Linked DNA regions of Homo sapiens. The protein of the gene in region 1 interacts with the protein of each later gene in a pairwise test. Each region holds a gene or a part of one and is shown in the gene's direction. Other genes may lie near its edges.

Region 1 (3,751 bases):
CTGTCTGGCACCAGGGCCTGTGACACTATGTTCAACATTGTTCCAGGCCTAAAGCTGGGGGATAAGTAAACAGAAAACAGTACCTACTTAGACGGACCAAAGCTGGAGACAGTAAATAAGACCCTCTGTTATCTTGACAGGGATCAGGTGCAGGATCATTCCATGACTATGAAATCAGCTGTTGCTGCTTTAGCAGCGTCCATGATTTCTCCTGTTGCCAAGCTTGGCGTATCTCTGAAACATCTACTTTGTTTGGTAGACAATTCATTTTTGAATTGTGAAGGAGCCAGTTGAACTCATGTTAGAGAATATGTGTCTATTTACCAAACTGCCTCTTCAAGGTCAGTTTCAAATTTCTTTTTTTCTTTTTTTTTTTTTATCAGAAGAAATTGACTTATGCAAGAAAGAGACAAAAGTATAAAGCGGACAAGAGAGGTACCTCAATGACAGAGAAGTGTATTGGCTTATCTCACTGGAAATGTACTGGACATGTAGAAATCTGTATACACTAGAGGGAAAAACAATAGGACAGAAAAAGGAAATTGGGGAAAGAAAAATAAAAACACCAAAGTTCTTGAAAGAACACCTTAAAAGAAAAGAATATCAAATTCAGGAAAGATTATAAAAACTTTGGTTAATTTAATGAGATATAAGCATTTTGAGCAATGGCATTTATTATGTACTTATTTTAATTTTCTTTTTCCGTAATTCTGAGTTTGTACAAATGTAATACTTTCTTTCATTTGTATTTCACTTTTTAATTTAATCAGCTCCTCCTTAAGAGTGCTTTGTTTTTTGCCTCTTATTATTAGTAAAATCTTTTACTTTCTGTATTTTTGCTTAACTTTTCCCCATCCTAGTAGCTTTCTCTATTTTTCAGTTATTAGTGCTAGCATTTATTTTTCTTAGAGAATCAAAGGCTTAAAAAATTCACTCATTTATTTTTTAAAATTACAGTATAATATACATTTTTACTGTTAAAATAGTGAATGAACATCTTAATATGTAGCATTTCTATATTTCTACCTAATCCTTATTACTCTGAAATAATTTTAGAATGGTTTATAAAAATAATTATTGGACAATATTGCTGGCTTCATAATTCCTGATTACTGAGAACAAGAACTACAGTCCAAATCTCAAAATAAAAGTGTGTCTCCAGGAGGCACTGATGTTTTCACAAAAGTAAGAGGTATTTAGGGTTTCTCCTACGTTGGGTTCCTGCAAAAACAGGCCCTGAGATGTAGATTTATTGGGGCATCAAGTTTATTGGGTTGTGCTCTCAGGTTCAACCTATTAAGGAAAGAAGAAAGCAGGATTGGGCGGGCAAAGGGAGAAGTTGAACTGTGATGCAATTGCCACAGAGACCTCAGCTGACACCATTAGGAGCTTTAGGGCTGGGATGGCCATGCAGCCATATCCCAAATTGAGGCAAGAGGGCTCAGCCTTTACATCTCTTTATGGACCAGTCATTAGATGTAAGACATTGGATGCAAGCCTGCTCCCAGGATGGGGTATAACCTTGAGTTGGGTGGATCTCTTTGGTCAAGGGCAATTCCTAGAGAGGGATGCAGCTAAGCACTGTCAACCAATAGCCCCAGCAGCTGGAGGAATCAGTGCTTCATTCTTGAAGGACTTTGGAGGGAGCTGTCTGGGTGGAAAACCACAGCATCCACTACAGTAGCTTTTTTTTTTTTTTTTTTTTTGAGACGGAGTCTTGCTCTGTCACCAGGCTGGAGTGCAGTGGCACGATCTCAGCTCACTGCAACCTCTGCTTCAGGGGTTCAAGCTATTCTGCCTCAGCCTCCCAAGTAACTGGGACTACGGGTGCGTGTCACCACACCCGGCTAATTTTTTTTGTATTTTTAGTAGAGATGGGCTTTCACCATGTTGGCCAGGATGGTCTTGATCTCCTGACCTTGTGATCTGCCCACCTCTGCGTCCCAAAGTTCTGGGATTACAGGCGTGAGCCACCACGCCCAGCTTACAGTAGCTTTTGAACAATCATGTTAAATCAGACATAGATAATGTTCTAATCCAACTCCCTCATTTTAAAGATGAAATTTGAAGCTCAGAGACTATCCTAAACATATATACCTGGTCAGTAGCCACCAGACCCTTGGTCTCAATGCTTCATGTTTATATTTGCTGATTAGACCAACCTGTATGAAGCACAAGCTTTATCCAGTGAGTGTTTTCTTTTCCTTTCCGCTCCTTGGCATCTGAAAAATTTTTTCTTTTTTTAATCCACTAGACAGGAAAAAATAAAAACCCGTAAACATCATTTGTTATATAATGAAATGTATAGCTTCTTTTGTTTCTCATAAACTGTCAGTAAGTTCTGCAATTGGTAGTTAATTAAAATTTTTTAAATTGCAGTAATCTGAGACAACTATACTTTTTAATTTGCCTAGCATGATGACTTTAATGACCAAAAAGTTATATAGGTTAAATTTTATGTTCTTAAAATCATGAAGTATGTTAGATTGGTGAAGGACATTACAAGTACATTACATTTGTTCAAACTTTCTCCAAATCCCCTTCCAAAATTTTGCCTCTGACCTCAAGACTTTTAAAAATTTTTTGACATCTTGTCTACTTTCATATTTCTAAATTTTGCCATTCCTTCACTTGTTACTTTCTTATTTTATTTCTTGGCTATTTTTCCTTTCTTTAACTATGTATAATACCTTCTTATAGATTTATGATGTAGCATTCACCATTTTCCAGTAAGATGTTTAACCTTTTTCAGTGTTTTTATTTTTAATTTTTTCGTAGTTAATTTTAAATTTTATTCTCAATAGATTATGATTGAATTTTATAATTTTTCTCTCCCAGCTTCTCTTTTGCTTTATTTTTCTTTTCTACCACAGTTCTTTCTCCTGTACAGCTTGAGCGTTAGCATAATCTGAAGGGAATCGTGGGATTTTGGGGAAGATTTGGGTTTGTGTAGAAAAATATGAGGTACTTCTTGAGTAAAAACTATACTTTTTCTAATTTTCATTCAACTCCTCTTTCTATTTTAATTTGTTGGCCTAAAGCTTGAGGATAGCACCCAGCTTCCAAGGTCTATTGTGAGAAAGGAAGTTTTATGATGTTTAATATTGCCGTGAGTGAGAATGTTCTGGGAACTGTTGTAGTTGATGACTTTTCCCTTTCTATTCCAGGATTATGACATCTTTATGGCCTAATAATAAATCTCATAAAGTCGAAGGACAAATGAAATGGTAGGAAATGCCAGATAGGAGAGAAGAAAATTTGGATAGATCATGGCCGTCCTCCTAGACACATCAGTTTAAAGTGGTTTATTACTTAGCCACAAGAAAAAAACTATACTCAAAACAAAACTTGTATATGTAGTGTGCTTTTATGTGTATTAGGGGAGGTGGAGATATGTGTGGGTGTGGATTGCAATAGGAGAATGGCAGAGGAGTTCTCTACCATACCTACCATTCACTTAGGAATCTAACAAGTGTTTAAAACCAAATAATTTGGGCCAGGTGTGGTGGCACACCCCTGTAATCTCAGCACTTTGGGAGGCCTATGCAGGCAGATTGCTTAAGCCCAGGAGTTCAAGATCAGCCTGGCCAACAGGGCGAAACTCCATCTTTACAAAAAATACAAAAATTAACGGGATGTGGTGGTGCATGCCTGTAGTCCCAACCATTCAGGAGGCTGGGGTAGGAGGATTTCTGGAGCCTTGGAGGTTGAAGCTGCAGTGATCCATGATCATGCCACTGCATTCCAGCCT
Region 2 (3,751 bases), on another chromosome or scaffold:
GCAGGTACCCAGGGCTGCCAGGGAAGCCTTGCCAAACAGAGGCCCTGGTCAGGCTTCTCCCAAACTGGGCATCCCAGCTGGCATGGCACCAGTCCAGCCCGTGAGGCAGGCGCCGATGATTTGACCCCACCAGCAGGGCTCTGGGTGATGGGACTGGGGAGTCCTCCTTCACTTTGGCAGACGTGTTATGTTCCACCTTGTTTGCCCCCAGCAAGGCCCTTGAATCTGGAGCGTGGTCTGGGGCTGCATCAGCCTTCTAGCCTGGGATGGTCAGATTGGCAGAAGGCTGTGGCATCCTTCAATGCAGATGCCCTAGAGAGGGCCGTGGTGGGAGGCAGGATCCCTGGGTAGAGGCGGCTCCTCAGTGGCCCACTGGGCCTCACTGGACAGTCGCCTGTTGCTGCTGCTGGTGGTGCTGGGCCTGGGAGTCCACCTTGGAGCCACAGGCCAGGCACCTGGGTGGGAGGCAGCCCGGGGCCAGCACCAGCTCCACTTGTACCTGTTGGGCAGGGGCTATCGTGAGTCAGGTGGGCCCTGGTGAGTACTGCTCAGGGAGAGAGGCCAAGAGCATCAGGGATAACTGTGTTCCTTGAGTGTGGCCAGGGATGGTGCCAGGAGAGCTGGTCTGGTGCATCCCTGCCAACGACACACTTTGTGAATGGCTGCCTGGCAAGTGCTCCATGGAAAGCAGGGGCTTGGGAGGACTCGGCCCTCTCCAGCTGCTGCAGGCCCTCCGTTGCTGCAGGGTTTCTGGCTCTGCTCTCTCCTTCCTCCTCCTGCTTCTGTGTCAATGCTCCATTCCCAGGCTCCTAGTAGGGGCAAAAGGGCCTGCTGGGTGCAGGAGAACCTCCAGTCCCAGGTATGGCTGCAGCCCGTGCCAATCCTGTTCCAGCCACTTGAGGTGCCGACAGCATTGGAGTTGGAGGGAAAGTTGGGGTCTGTGTGTTTGAGCTCTGTCACATGGACAATGGGGTAGAGGGGAGCCTGGCCCTTTGAACAGGGCTCAGGACCAGGAGTGACTTCCTCTCCAGGTTGCCAGTCCTGCTCCATCCCTCATGTCCTGGAAGAGAGAGAGAGACGAGGTGGCTGCCCGAGTCCACGTGAAAGGCAGCCTCTGACCTCTTGTCCCCAGGCAGGTGGTGGCGGCTGGCAACACACTCATAGGGCCCCATGAGGGTTCAGGATTGGAGGGGGTAGATTTGGGGGCCTCTTAGCTCTCAAAGAGGGGCAATTTAACGGGCAGAGGTCCATTTGGATCCAGACCATTCACAGGCTCGAAGGGGACACTGGGAGTTGGGGCTGGGCTCAGGCCTGCTGGGGAACCAAAACTTCTGCTTCTGAGGGGTGTCAGTAATTCCATTTTGACTCTGGGGGAGCCATTTTAAATCTGTTTATTTCCTTCTCATAGAATCATGGGTGAGAGCTGGCATGGCCCCTAGAGGTCATTTGGGGTCCAGCTGCCTCACCGTATCAATGAGGAAACTGAGGCCCAGAAAAGAAAAGCATTTTTGCCCAGAGTCCCTCAGTGAGTCCTGGTTCCGTACCTGCTTTCTGCCAGGGACCAAACTCCCGTTAGTCATTCCTGGTGTCAGCCAGGCAGAGGAGCAGGTGGGGGAGAGGGCGTGGGAGGAGGGAGGTGAGGCAGCTCCCTCCGAGTGGAAGCTCACAGTCAGCTGCAGCGCCGCCCCTGCCCTGACTGCAGCTGACTGGCAGGGGCACCTGGAGGCAGCGGGTTCGGGCGCAGTATGAGAGGGCTTACCCTCTGCGGCAGTGGGAGACAGGACCAGGCAGCTCCCCACATCCTTCCACATCCGAGCTCCAGGGGTCTCTGGCTTGTCCTTTCACAGGGCGGCTGGTGTCCCTTAGGTGGGTGCTGGTAGTTCCTGGGAGAGTTGACGGGATGGAGCAGGCCAGGGGGGCTGAGAAGTTGGCCTGGCGAGAGAAGGTGGGTGGGACTGGGAGAGCCTGGGCAGGGAGGGGCCTTTCTGGGAGGGAGTGTCATGGGGCTGGCCGAGATCCAGGACCCAGGAGACTGGCCAAGCTGCCACAGGAGGCCTGAGAGGCTGAGCATGGGGGGGCCAACACTGACAGACTTTAACAAGTTTCTGGCTCCCCCAGGAAAAAAACAGACCACATCTGATCCTTGGCCCTGAGTCCAGAGTGGGAGGCACCGTGACAACAATGCGCAGAGCAGGGAATGCAGGGAGCCATGGATAGTGCTGGGGTGAGCTGGAGTCCTGGCAGGGGCCCAGCTAGGGCAGTACTCATTCTGCAGAGCCTGGGAGAAGGGGCTGCCTCCTTGGGAGGGGTTTGTGTGGGAGTCTCAGCGGGAATTCTATTGGACCAGGGGAACCAGCCTTGCTCAGTGACTTCTCTGGGTGTCCTCCTCTAAAGTGAGGGTCAAATTCCCACCTCTCTCGCCTCCTGGCTATGACCACAGCAGACCAGGCAGGGCATGGGGCTAGGCGGGGTCAGGGGCCATCCTCAGGCTGACACCTGGCCTGTGGGTAGGGTGGGATCTGAAACTATAGGGTCTTCAGGGGGCCAAGTGTGGGGTAAGGGGTGGCACTTTCCGCAGGGCTCGCCCTCTGCAGATGGTTCAGCTTCTCATCGGCTGTCCCTTTGCAGGTGCCTCAGGAACCCTGAAGCTGGGCTGAGCCATGATGCTGCTGCCAGAACCCCTGCAGAGGGCCTGGTTTCAGGAGACTCAGAGTCCTCTGTGAAAAAGCCCTTGGAGAGCGCCCCAGCAGGGCTGCACTTGGCTCCTGTGAGGAAGGGGCTCAGGGGTCTGGGCCCCTCCGCCTGGGCCGGGCTGGGAGCCAGGCGGGCGGCTGGGCTGCAGCAATGGACCGTGAGCTGGCCCAGCCCGCGTCCGTGCTGAGCCTGCCTGTCGTCTGTGGCCATGCCCATCATGGGCTCCTCGGTGTACATCACGGTGGAGCTGGCCATTGCTGTGCTGGCCATCCTGGGCAATGTGCTGGTGTGCTGGGCCGTGTGGCTCAACAGCAACCTGCAGAACGTCACCAACTACTTTGTGGTGTCACTGGCGGCGGCCGACATCGCAGTGGGTGTGCTCGCCATCCCCTTTGCCATCACCATCAGCACCGGGTTCTGCGCTGCCTGCCACGGCTGCCTCTTCATTGCCTGCTTCGTCCTGGTCCTCACGCAGAGCTCCATCTTCAGTCTCCTGGCCATCGCCATTGACCGCTACATTGCCATCCGCATCCCGCTCCGGTGAGCAGGGCCGGGGTTACATCTGTGCAAAGGCTGTTGGTGCCCAGGCTTTGGTCTGTGCCCGGAGCCAGGGTGAGCCTGGGATCAGGGCCTGGTCTGCAGTGTCAGCATGGTGAGCTGGCGACGGGGCCCCAGGCTCAGCAGGGGCTCCCCAGGGCCAGCACGTGGCCAGCAGTCATGCCGAACTGACTGACCCCTATGGGCGCAGGGCAGCCTGGCCCTCCCAGGCGGCCTGGGTTCCCCTAGGCTGCCTGAGGCCAACTGTGCTCTGCTTTTTGGCAGATGAGTGTGGCCAGGGTCTGGCATTGGGCTTAGCAGGGAGCTGTGGTCCCAGTGACCCACGTGCTGCCAGCGGGTGTGTCTGGGCCATTCCTCACACACAAGCAAAACTTCCCGGATGATGCTGGGGTGGAGTGGGGAGCCAGGGGAAACCATAGGACCTCAGAGTTAGGAGCCGCCCGCCACCTGCCTTCCCCCAGATCCTCTGGGCCAGCCTTGCAGTGTGCACATTAGGAAA
Region 3 (3,751 bases), on another chromosome or scaffold:
AGAATATTTGCATTTTAGAGGTCATGGGTGTTAATTAGCAAGAGTGATTGGAGAAGAAGGGTGGGGGAATGGAAGAATAAAGTTTGAAAAAGGTTATTTCATGAAACCACTTTAAGATGGCATACAGAGAAGGCAGAGTGTTATCTGCCCGTAAAAAGCTAAAATTAGAATAAAATATGAAGTACTGAGATTAAAAAAGTCTGTCTATATAATAAAAATTCCTGGAACCTGTGAAGGAAAATGGTGTTGAAACATAAGTCAGAGGATATCTTTTTAAAATGTGTTAATTTTAGGGCAGTGCTCTATTTTCATCACTTTCCCCATTTTGGCTCAAACTACAAAAATGCTTGATCATTAATGTATTTGTATATATAGGGATCCTTACTATCTAAGTTTTCATATTTAAGAGACTGAATAAGGTGACAAAGGCAGTCAAAATGTGAAAATATTCACTGTACTTACACATTCCTCTTCACTAAACTAGTGATGGATGGACATTTAATAATGAAATTCAAGTCAGATGATGAAATGAAATTTTGAATCTTTGTAAAAATTCAAGCTTTCATGAGATAGGAAATGATGATGTGGAACTGCTCAAACCACACTAAAATCAGTGTCAGATGACTGGTAACTAAAGGAACAACAAGATAATGAGTGGTTCTGATGGGTGCTTTAAAAAAAATTGAATATCATTGGGTGCATTTGGCAAAGTAACAAATTCTGAGTTGTTTTTGCAAAAATGACCTCTTATGCTTGTTCTACAAGAGAGTAAACATAGAAAAAAGACCTTATACAGCTTGCCAGGAAATACTCCTCCCAAATCTTGATTCATTCTTTGATTTTATTAATTGTAAATTACAACTTATTTTCATAGTTTTCATGTTTTTAAGATGAAGGGCCAAACACCTTTTCCCTATTAAAATTTGGACCTTCTTTTAAGTGGATTCACTTTGTTTCCTTTTTTGTAACCAATTGTGCATCTTTGGACACAATTATATTAATAATGACATATACAAAGGGGGCTGATGAGCCAATCTAGAATTTTCCTTCTGCATGTTCATCCTTAAAGAGATGAATGTAAAGGTATCAACTCTTTCATTTAATGTTAGTGCTTTAGTGAAACATTTATATAAATGAAAACAGTATTAAATAAGTAGTATTCTTCAGCATGACTTAATAATATTTCAAACATTTTTAATCTTGAATGTTTTTGTCTCCCACAGGCCAAAAACAGAGAACTACTCAAACAGGTCGCAGCATTATCAAAGGGTAAAAAATTTGACAAAAGTGGAAGCATACTAACATCTCCTTGAGAAAGTCATTTGTTTAGCATTTCTTCTTACAATGTAAATTTGGGGAAAAAAAATTCTGTGAAGCCCTTAAATTCTGTGTAGTAGAAAAATATTTTTGCACACCAAATGAATTGGTGTGTTTCCTGTTCACTTTTGTAATTGATATACAGCATTTTTTAAGTTGTAAAACATTCAAATAAAACTTCAACTGGTTTGAAGTAACTTTTTAATTATTTGATATCCAGGAACTTTTTTGCCAGCAATAGTATTAAACAGTTGTAAAGGAGTGCATGAGTAGTGCTCTTTATGAAACGCAACATGCAATAATAGAGTAGGTATGGTTTCAGAAGTCAGAGCAGCAGGGTTTTTTTGTTTTGTTTTTGTTTTACACTATGCTAATTTCAGACAAACAGTTTTCAATTTAGAAATACAAAAACTTTTAAACTCGAAAAATGGCGAACACTGGTTTTTTGGGAATTGTGTTTTTACTTTGCATCAAGATGAATTTAGGAGAAAATCACGGTGCTTTTATTAAATGAACTTCAGATATATGTAAATTTGTTTTTTAAAGTTACATCATTAACATTAGTAACCTAGCATTTTCATTATTGGTATAGGAATTAATGTTTATTGTACAGTATCTAAGGTAAAATGTGTTTCTGTTTTGTAAAAACTACTGTAGATTTTTACTTACAAGTGCCTTTTTGCCACCTAATGTTTTTATTTATAGGAATGCTGATCTTTTGTACATACATTTTGTTTTAAAATCATGTTTAATAAATGTTTGTATATAAATGCATATGTACAGAAGCCTATTTCAAAAGGAAATCAAAGTTGCTAGTAAAATGTTTGAGATTACATTTAGAACTAACTGATAATGCATATAGATTGTAGAAAATTTTGTGATTTGTTTCTGTGTGATAAGGGAAGCTGTTGGTCTTTGAATTCATTTAATTATGTCAAAATAGTTCCCCAAAGATTTAATTTTAAGTTGCTTCTTAAAGAGTAATTTTATTTTTTATGTCATGTGGCTTCATATTAGTATTGTGTGAGTTACATGTTTTGCTTTATATTTTATAAAATTTTTTAAAAATTTTAATGTTTCTGCAATGATCCATGTATCTGCTTTCCCTATGTGTGGTTATCTAAGTTAATATTTATGTACAATGTAATTTGTAAATTTAAAGCAAATCTGAAAAAAATTAAATGATCTTTTTAATCCAATCTGTGATAATCTTTGAATAAATTGGAATCTACTATAAGATTCAGGCATTATAAGTAAATTGTCCTAAAGTCTTTAAAATTGTCTATAAAAGGTTAAGGTAGGGTGGGATAGGTTATATGAAGTTATTGACTATATTCTGATCCAGCGGTTTTCAGCCTGAAATAGAATTTATCTCCTAGTTATTATCAGTTCAGAGTTTTAGTTTGATTTTAAAGTATTGCTAGATACACTGTATAGAGTGAGTTGCTTCTCTTAATAATTTATGGGCAAAGATAAATTTGCTTCATGTAAAACTGTTACTAAATTTATAAGTTTTAAAGGTTTTGTTTTATACAAGCATTGATTGTGAATGTCATATCAAAGATTGGCTTTCTTAAGAACACATGATTGAAACAATTTTTTTTTAACATGACGTGTTTCAATAGACTGTTCTCATAGTTCATTATAAAGTGAATACCAAATAATTCTTTGTCCATTTTGAAAGCATAATATAGGGTAATTTTCAAGTGATACAAAAAGATTCAGTTAGAATCTTGTAAACTAAACCAGTTTATTTTTATGGGATCTTCATGTAATAATTTTCTTAAATTTAGTACTCTCAACCATGATAGATAATGCCTTAACATGGATTTTAACGTTTGCAGGATTTGCTAAATTCATAAGATAGTTATTACCTTTCTTTGAAATTTGTAATGTTTTATATTCTTGTTTCATAGCCATTTGTCAGTCCACAGTGGTCATTATGGTTTTACTTTTTGATAGTTCTTACACCTTGTTGGAGAAACTACAAAAGAAAGTTGTCCTCGTCCTTCCCCTTAGCTAACATCAAAATTAAAAAGTTGAATATTAATATTAGCTAACATTAAAATGGAAGGTAATTCAGTTTTAGTGTTAGCTAACATTAACAGTCTAATAATTTAGCTTTGTAAATTCCAAGGCTAAAACCCTTTCATGGGCTTCACAGTATTTAGTCCTAATTAAATACCCTTCTTTATTCCATGACCTTATTTTATAACTTAAATTTTTTTGCAATTGTATAAATTAGTAATTCAGTCCCAGTCCTGGATCTCTGTAGTGTTTTGACATAATAAACTGATATTCTTTAAATGTGGACCTGTAAGGAGATACTATGGTGTGGTGTATTGTGCTTTTAGCCTGTTTTCCACTATTAATTAGCATTTACCAGTAAGGGTCATTTTGACTCAAGTTATTTATGTATTAATAGCCTGTGAAT

Evidence for each region.
Region 2: the proteins of GPR37 (region 1) and ADORA2A interact in binary tests that used the Homo sapiens proteins (3 or more experiments, as listed by UniProt).
Region 3: the proteins of GPR37 (region 1) and FAM76B interact in binary tests that used the Homo sapiens proteins (3 or more experiments, as listed by UniProt).

Annotation. Positions count from the first base shown.
Region 1 is NC_000007.14:124,759,110-124,762,860, reverse strand, and holds part of GPR37 (prosaposin receptor GPR37 precursor), read left to right. Parts: intron 1-3,751.
Region 2 is NC_000022.11:24,430,503-24,434,253, forward strand, and holds part of ADORA2A (adenosine receptor A2a), read left to right. Parts: intron 1-394; exon of another isoform or gene 395-1,060; intron 1,061-1,745; exon of another isoform or gene 1,746-1,932; intron 1,933-2,118; exon of another isoform or gene 2,119-2,224; intron 2,225-2,628; 5' UTR 2,629-2,902; coding exon 2,903-3,234; intron 3,235-3,751. UniProt on the Homo sapiens protein: Receptor for adenosine. The activity of this receptor is mediated by G proteins which activate adenylyl cyclase.
Region 3 is NC_000011.10:95,769,123-95,772,873, reverse strand, and holds part of FAM76B (protein FAM76B), read left to right. Parts: intron 1-1,223; coding exon 1,224-1,313; 3' UTR 1,314-3,751. UniProt on the Homo sapiens protein: Negatively regulates the NF-kappa-B-mediated inflammatory pathway by preventing the translocation of HNRNPA2B1 from the nucleus to the cytoplasm.